2 linked regions of the Homo sapiens genome follow. The protein of the gene in region 1 interacts with the protein of each later gene in a pairwise test. Each region holds a gene or a part of one and is shown in the gene's direction. Other genes may lie near its edges.

The links.
Region 2: the proteins of UBAC2 (region 1) and LMO7 interact in a two-hybrid assay, tested with the Homo sapiens proteins (one large-scale study listed by IntAct).

Annotation. Positions count from the first base shown.
Region 1 is NC_000013.11:99,378,548-99,382,578, forward strand, and holds part of UBAC2 (ubiquitin-associated domain-containing protein 2 isoform 1 precursor), read left to right. Parts: intron 1-4,031. UniProt on the Homo sapiens protein: Restricts trafficking of FAF2 from the endoplasmic reticulum to lipid droplets.
Region 2 is NC_000013.11:75,807,330-75,810,829, forward strand, and holds part of LMO7 (LIM domain only protein 7), read left to right. Parts: intron 1-150; coding exon 151-870; intron 871-1,824; coding exon 1,825-1,854; intron 1,855-3,500.

The DNA of each region.
Region 1 (4,031 bases):
AACTTCAATATCCACTTCTTCTGGCTTACTGACAGACTCGAAGGTATATTTTTTACCTGTTAGGAGGTCAGGCATCATTTTATCCTCATTTGACATGTGGAATCCTTCAAAGTCACCACCTTGTTCGTCATCATCACTGAACATAGCACAGGCCAGAGGTTGTGTCAGGCTTGCATAGCTGTGTTCTCAGTCACTGTGTTCCATGCATTGGCAACAGCATGTGTGGCATCCTTCACGCTAAACGCCTGTTGAAAATCTTCCATACCCATTCATTTGTTGCTAGCATGTTGTTCAAGAAGGTACTTTTATATTTATCCTTCATTGATCTAAGAATACCTTGGCCACATGGCTGAATTAATGGAGTCACATTTGGGGAAAAGTACATGGCATAAACATGATTTTTGATGAGATGTCAGCTGGAGGATGAACAGAAAAGTTGTCAAGGTATAACAAAATATTTCAGTCATCATCCAGCCCAGCTTCCCTGCAGTGAGCACAAGCCACAGGTCCAAAATGTTTGTGAGACCAATCAGAAAAGATATCCCTAGTTAAACATGCCTTTTTGTTAGCATAATAATGGTCTGGTAAGAAATTCGCTGCTTGAAAACAGCAAGGACACAAACTTTTGCCTGTCATGCAAGTTTACGCTTATGCATGCCTGCTGCATTAGCACATCCCAGCAAAGTTGTTCTGCCCTTGATGTCCTCAGTTCCTGGAGGGGCTGTCTCATTAGCTGTAGTTGTGTCTTTCTGGAGCAATAAAACCAAAACAGTGATGTTCCATCAGCATTATAGACTTGTTCTGGCATCAGATTTTTGTCAGCAATGACCTTGGCAAACTCACCAATGAATTTCTTTGCTGCTTCATGATGCTTTGTCACCACATTAAAAAATTTGGTTTCATGTTTTTTCTTAAATTTCTGCAGCCAACATGTTGAATATTCATAGTTCCTTTTCATTTTCAGTTCCTCATCCTGATAGATCCTTGCTTGTTTCCTGACCCACATAGCATTAAGTGGCAGGTGTTCACTGCAACACCAAGGGATCCATCCTCGGTACATGATCAGGATCTTCATTTTTAGCTTTATGCAGTGTTTCTCTATTTTTCATTAATTTCTGTTTATCACTTTTAGCACAGAACTTCAACAGTTTATCCTTCTGTTTCTTCAGATCCTATATGGTGGTCACTCCAACACCATACTCTCCTGTAAGACGTTTCACACTTACACTGCTCTCCACTTTCTCCAACAGCTTGACTTTCTGTGCTATAGATAAACATAAATCTTTTTCTTATCACTGTTACCCAGAGGGTATCTGCACACCTTTTAGATATTTTAACAACATTTTTATAACACAGAGCAGAAAGTAAGCAAAAAAGCACAGTGAGTGACGCACGTGGGTTTTGGCCCCATGCAGGTCATTGTGGGGAACCTGCCCACTGGCATGTGCTTGCGTGGGGGAGTCGGGGCATGTGCAGAAAAGGCATGTCACAGCTGAAGGAGGGTGAGAGGGTCTCTTTTCCCTTGGAGACACTGAATAAACTACATGTTGTGGCCTGCATTTTGACTGCAGCCCATCACATGAGGTCAGGTGTGGAACTTGCCATTTGTACTGCCATGTTGGTACTCAAAAAGTTTCAAATTCTGGAGCATTTTCGATTTTGAATTTTCAGATTAGGAATGCTTAACGTGTGTTTTGCTTACCTGACTGCACGTCTGCGCAGGCCTCAATTTCGTCTTTCTGTAATTTGAGCACAGGAGTTGATGCTTCACATGCCGAGTAAGCTTTCCCAGGAGAGACCGTAATGAGATGTGTGGGGACTGGGCGTGCTGGGCTTCTCTGAGCAGAGGAATAGTGAGAGCCACAGCAGTAATTGTTAGTGTCCACCAAAGAGCCCTACAGACAACTGTTCTCTGTGCTGCTAGTTTTTGCTCCAGTTCTTACTGTCTATATGGTGAACCTCTGAAACTACATAAAGAAAGGACAGCAGGGGCCACTTGGCTAACTTGCACGGCTGTGAGCACTGCACTGCACCCCTCCACTGGGGAGTATTGGGTAAGCACCCATCGGAACACCTATCCCCTGACCCTTCTCGTCCTTGCTGGCTGGTTGTCATCGCATACCCAAGCCCAAGCATGCAGTTTCAGTTTGCCATGGATGTTTAGTTTTGGACACTATGGGAAACCTTCAGGTGCCCTTTCTTAGTGTAATTGTTTATTCTTTTTAAAGAACTGTGCTAACATTATTGCTACTTAGCAATAGTTTTTAATCTGGTGAAAATAACAGGTCAGTGGGCAGTGAAAGTTCTCCTGTCACACTTGTCTTCTCACCCATAAAAATCACTTAAAGCTCTGAAGCCAGCTTTGGCTAAAGGGGCATGATCTGCCCCGCAGAGGATGAAGAGCGAGCCCGCTGCAAGCTGTGACAGCAGACGCTCTCTTCTGCCAAGACCTGTGAAAAGCCAGTCTTAGTTGTCAAAACCAGCACCGCGGCACATGTCGTTCATGTCTGAGAGAATGAACTCAGAAGGAAGTCTCGTGTACATAGAAAGCTTTCGTTCTTACTCTAGGATGTCACCTACGTGACTTACAACCCAGCCCAGCCATCCCAGACCTAAGGGGTTCTTCCCTCTCCAGGGCAGGGCCTGCATGCAGTCCATGCTGCTGCCCTGTGTTGGTGACCTGTGTGTAGCCAGCCCATTATCAGCATCCTGTGGATTCCAAACCAAATGTATCATCAGTGGAGGGAGAGCTCAAGTGCCAGGTGGAGCTGTGGCCTAAAGTCACACTTCATCACTCCAGATTATGAATCGTCATTTGCCAGATCTCCAAATTGCTGAGTGTGGACAGCAAATGGATTCGTTTGTGCTGGCTGGGTGCAAAGAAGCAGCCAGTCCTCAGCTGCACTTGAAGTACTACAGGTAGTAGTAAAGGTAGCTTTTCCAAGCCGTTTAAATAAACGTCATTAAGAGTGGCCAAGTTGTTTGGGGGCCATGGCATCATGGTGGTGGATAGTAGGTGGAAGGAAGGCAGGCCAGCTCCCGTTTGGCCTGAGTTATCTCCACCAATGACAATGGTCCTTAACTGGAGGGAACATCATACAGGTTATTTCCACCCAAGATTGGAAAGACCACCTTGATCAGAGAGAGTTTTCCTTCCACATGACACATATCCAGCCTGAGTCCTCCAGCCCCTCTCCCTGCACAACCTGATGGAGGCTTGAGAAAGCACAGGGAGGAACACTTAGCTTGAAAATGTTCCTAAGGAAAAGGAAAGTGTGAATTCTGAGAACCAAGTGGCAGAATTGAAGTTTCACATCTGGCAAAAGCTTAAACAGATTATTATCAAATAGATGGTTTGTGAACGTTGAAAAGACAGCTGTGGTCTAGGACACCAAACCAATCCTGTTGGCAAGAGATCACCAAGACCTTTGACAACATCTCATCAGCTTATGAGAGATGTTGGTGACATGCAGAATGGATAATGATAGTGCAATGAAGTGGGTTTGAAACTGATTAAAAATGTTGATTAACCCCTTGAACACAGAGTTCTGGGCTCTTTGACCTGACGTGTTTGACATTTTCATCAATAATAACTTGAACAAAGTTGTAGAGGTTTACTAATCAAATTTAGGCATGATACAAGTTTGAGGGAGATGATTAACAGTAGATAACAAAATGAGAATTGAAAATAATTCATTTTGGTTGACTGGAAAATGATCAGATGGAATTTAACAGAGATATGTAGAGTCCTAGACTTAAAAGGTCAGGTAGGATTTGAGAGACCTGACTTGACAGCATTTTATGTGAAAATTCCTGAGTGTTTTCAGCAGGCCCAGCTTAACTGGCCACACCAGTGATGCAGCTCCTTACACAAGTGCATGCACAGGCACACACAACACATATGCACACTACTAATGCATTCCTCTGCTCTCATTGAAGCTAAGGGCCCAGACTGTTGGAGGGCAGTGGCCTCACTGCCCTGGTGAGACCACACCCGTGGTGTCACACTCAGTTCTGGGCGCGGTGTTCTG
Region 2 (3,500 bases), about 24 Mb from region 1:
CAAGAGTCCCCACAATGGTCCTCTAAAATGATTTACCCTCAGTAACTGGCTAGTTGGTCTGCTAATCACCTTTGGCTAGTCGATCTGCTAATTACCTTTTCTCCCTAAGCTTAATAAGATTCTCTTTCCTTTTTCCTCTCTGTGCATCAGTCAGTTTTTACTGCTTCAGGCCCTCCAAACATACTCTGATGACATCTTGTCTTCTGAAACACATACCAAAATTGATCCCACTTCTGGCCCAAGGCTCATAACCCGCAGGAAGAATCTCTCTTATGCACCAGGCTATAGAAGAGATGACCTCGAGATGGCAGCCCTGGATCCTGACTTAGAGAATGATGATTTCTTTGTCAGAAAGACTGGGGCTTTCCATGCAAATCCATATGTTCTCCGAGCTTTTGAAGACTTTAGAAAGTTCTCTGAGCAAGATGATTCTGTAGAGCGAGATATAATTTTACAGTGTAGAGAAGGTGAACTTGTACTTCCGGATTTGGAAAAAGATGATATGATTGTTCGCCGAATTCCAGCACAGAAGAAAGAAGTGCCGCTGTCTGGGGCCCCAGATAGATACCACCCAGTCCCTTTTCCCGAACCCTGGACTCTTCCTCCAGAAATTCAAGCAAAATTTCTCTGTGTACTTGAAAGGACATGCCCATCCAAAGAAAAAAGTAATAGCTGTAGAATATTAGTTCCTTCATATCGGCAGAAGAAAGATGACATGCTGACACGTAAGATTCAGTCCTGGAAACTGGGAACTACCGTGCCTCCCATCAGTTTCACCCCTGGCCCCTGCAGTGAGGCTGACTTGAAGAGATGGGAGGCCATCCGGGAGGCCAGCAGACTTAGGCACAAGAAAAGGCTGATGGTGGAGAGGTCAGAGTGTGTTTCTGCAAGGATTTTGCTTGTAATGGATGGTCTTGTGTAACTTTTCTCATGCGAGAAAGCAGCTCATCGTGTTGCTCAACTCTGCATGTCGCGTGCCATTTTGAAGCATCCCGTAAAATTTAATTTGCTTTGAAAAACCCTCAGTCGTTTTGTACAAAAAGTGCAATTCCATATTTGCATATCTCTAAATAACTTATTTAGGCCTGTTTAAGACTGTATATACATAAACCTTGCCTTTGACTTAAGCAGTACTGTGGTACTATCCACCAATATGAAGTTTCTGGACTTCTCATGTTCAGGCATTTTTGTAACAGTCTGGTTATAGTTTGGTTTTATGTGTTGCTCACATTTTAGAGTGTCTGATTTTTTTGGGGGGGTGAAATTTTCCCTTAAAATATGGCATTGCAAATTTCATTTAACTTAATTTTTGGTTTTGGCCTAGGTTTCTTGGACTATCATTTGTAACTTATTTTTATTTATGAAGTTCAGAGTAAACGTTGATGTTAAAATGCATGAATGGTATTTGTTGTCTGCTGAATTTTATGTGTATGTAATCATGGCCATTTTGATAGTTTGTATTATGCAACTTGCCTTTTTGATGAATGTTCAGTTTGTGGAACTTAGAGATGGACAAATCTGATTAGGTTGAATAAAATTAGAGGATCCAAATCTAACTTAACAGTTCCTGACAATGGGAAGCCTTTTCATATGGATTTGTTAGCTCAGAGTAAATTGAGGAAATTCTTCATTTTGCTTAATCTGAATTTCCTGAGATAGGAAATTGATGAGAACTTGAGACATGATCAAGAATGTGATGGAAGAAGTGACCTTTTGAGATTTGTCCGTCTCCAGTTAGATTCTTAAGTGGAAGACATTGAACGTTTAGAAACTAATATGACTGGGAAAAATGACTTTTTAATTTTTGGTTTTCTGGTTTCTTAGACTCTTTCAAAAGATTTATGGTGAGAATGGGTAAGTTGTGTGGTTCACAGTAAAAAATCTGTGCGTGTTGTTTGTTCTTTGTATAACTTACTGTATTTCTGGCATGGCATGTCACTAAATGGGGTTGTTGTGTGCTGTGCATGATATTTTTTAAGTGGGAAATGTTTATCTTGCAACCTAATGGTAATATTTCTGTGTCTTGGTGCCCAGTGCAAGATAAAATTATTTGTTTTATTAAAAATTTAAACTTCAGCTTCATCCCTTCTTTTTTCCTTTTTAAAAATTTAATGAGTTGATTAAAAGTCACAAAAGCACTTGCCTAAGATTAGGTATATGTATTTTGGTATTTGGTTGCTACATAGACTAAAATTCTGATTTATGGATGCTAAAGCCCAAATTACTACATTTTAGAAAATCTGTGATGGAAAAAGAATATTAGCATTTACTTCAAGTTTAGAATACACCCAGTTGACATTATCCTATAATCGGCCAACTGGGAGCTTCGTTAGTAGGGATGCATTAAACTTCCCTAGGTGGTATTTGGAAGTATTATATTTTCAAGATTCCTGATTAGGAAAAAAAAGTTATAACATGGCTATATTTATAGTGCAAAATAGACCTTCAAAAACTGCAAAAATATTTTTAATTTCTAATATCACTGTTGCAAAAACTACATTTTTTTTTTTTTTTTTTTTTGAGATGGAGTCTCGCTCTGTCGCCCAGGCTGGAGTGAAGTGGCGCAATCTTGGCTCACAGCAACTTCCACCTCCCAGGTTCAAGCAATTCTCCTGTCTCAGCCTCCTGAGTAGCTGGGACTACAGTTGCATGCCACCACACTCTGCTAATTTTTGTATTTTTAGTAGAGACGGGGTTTCACCAGATTGGTCCGGCTGGTCTCAAACTCCTGACCTCAGGTGGTCCATCCACCTCAGCCTCCCAAAGTGCTGGGATTACAGGCAAAAACTACATTTACAGTAAATCATTTATTCATTCTTAGTACAAAATCACAAGGTGGCTATATCTTAATATTTTCCACCAAACTTTCTGTAACTTTGTGAATCTAAGGGCTAATAGTGTTTGAGCAAGAGGAAGAGAGTTAAAGGATGACAGATGTTTTAATCTGCTCAAGCCTCAGTAGCTAAGTATCTTCCCTTATGAGGATTTACTTCATCTATAAGAATCTCTAGTTTTGATAGCTTTTTATAACTTTGATAATTCAGAAATGTTGGAAGCTACTAAATGTAAAGCAGTATAACCATTCTAGATGCCAAAGGTGTAACTGAGCCACAGGCAACAAATTGCAAGTACTTGTTAGCCACTGATTTTAAAAACCAGGGTCCCTGCATGCTTTCCGTGTGCCATGCAAAGGCACATTATCCGCTTTCCAGCTCATCTGCATGATGCTTAAACATTTGCTACTCTCAAGTCATAGGAAAGCTGTTTTAACTTGATTAAAAATCTCTTTGCAGCTTTAAGCATGTTGAATTGTAACTTTCAGAAAAATTTTCATTTGTAAATTAAATATAACTTTATAATGTAAGCAGCTCTCAGAAATAGTTGCTTTTCTTAAAGGAAATAAAAGTACCCAGAGTACAAGTATGTGGTGGAAATGTCAACATGTACAACCATTTCAGTGGCTGGATGTGTTCCCTGTAGTGAGGGGTAAATTATATGAC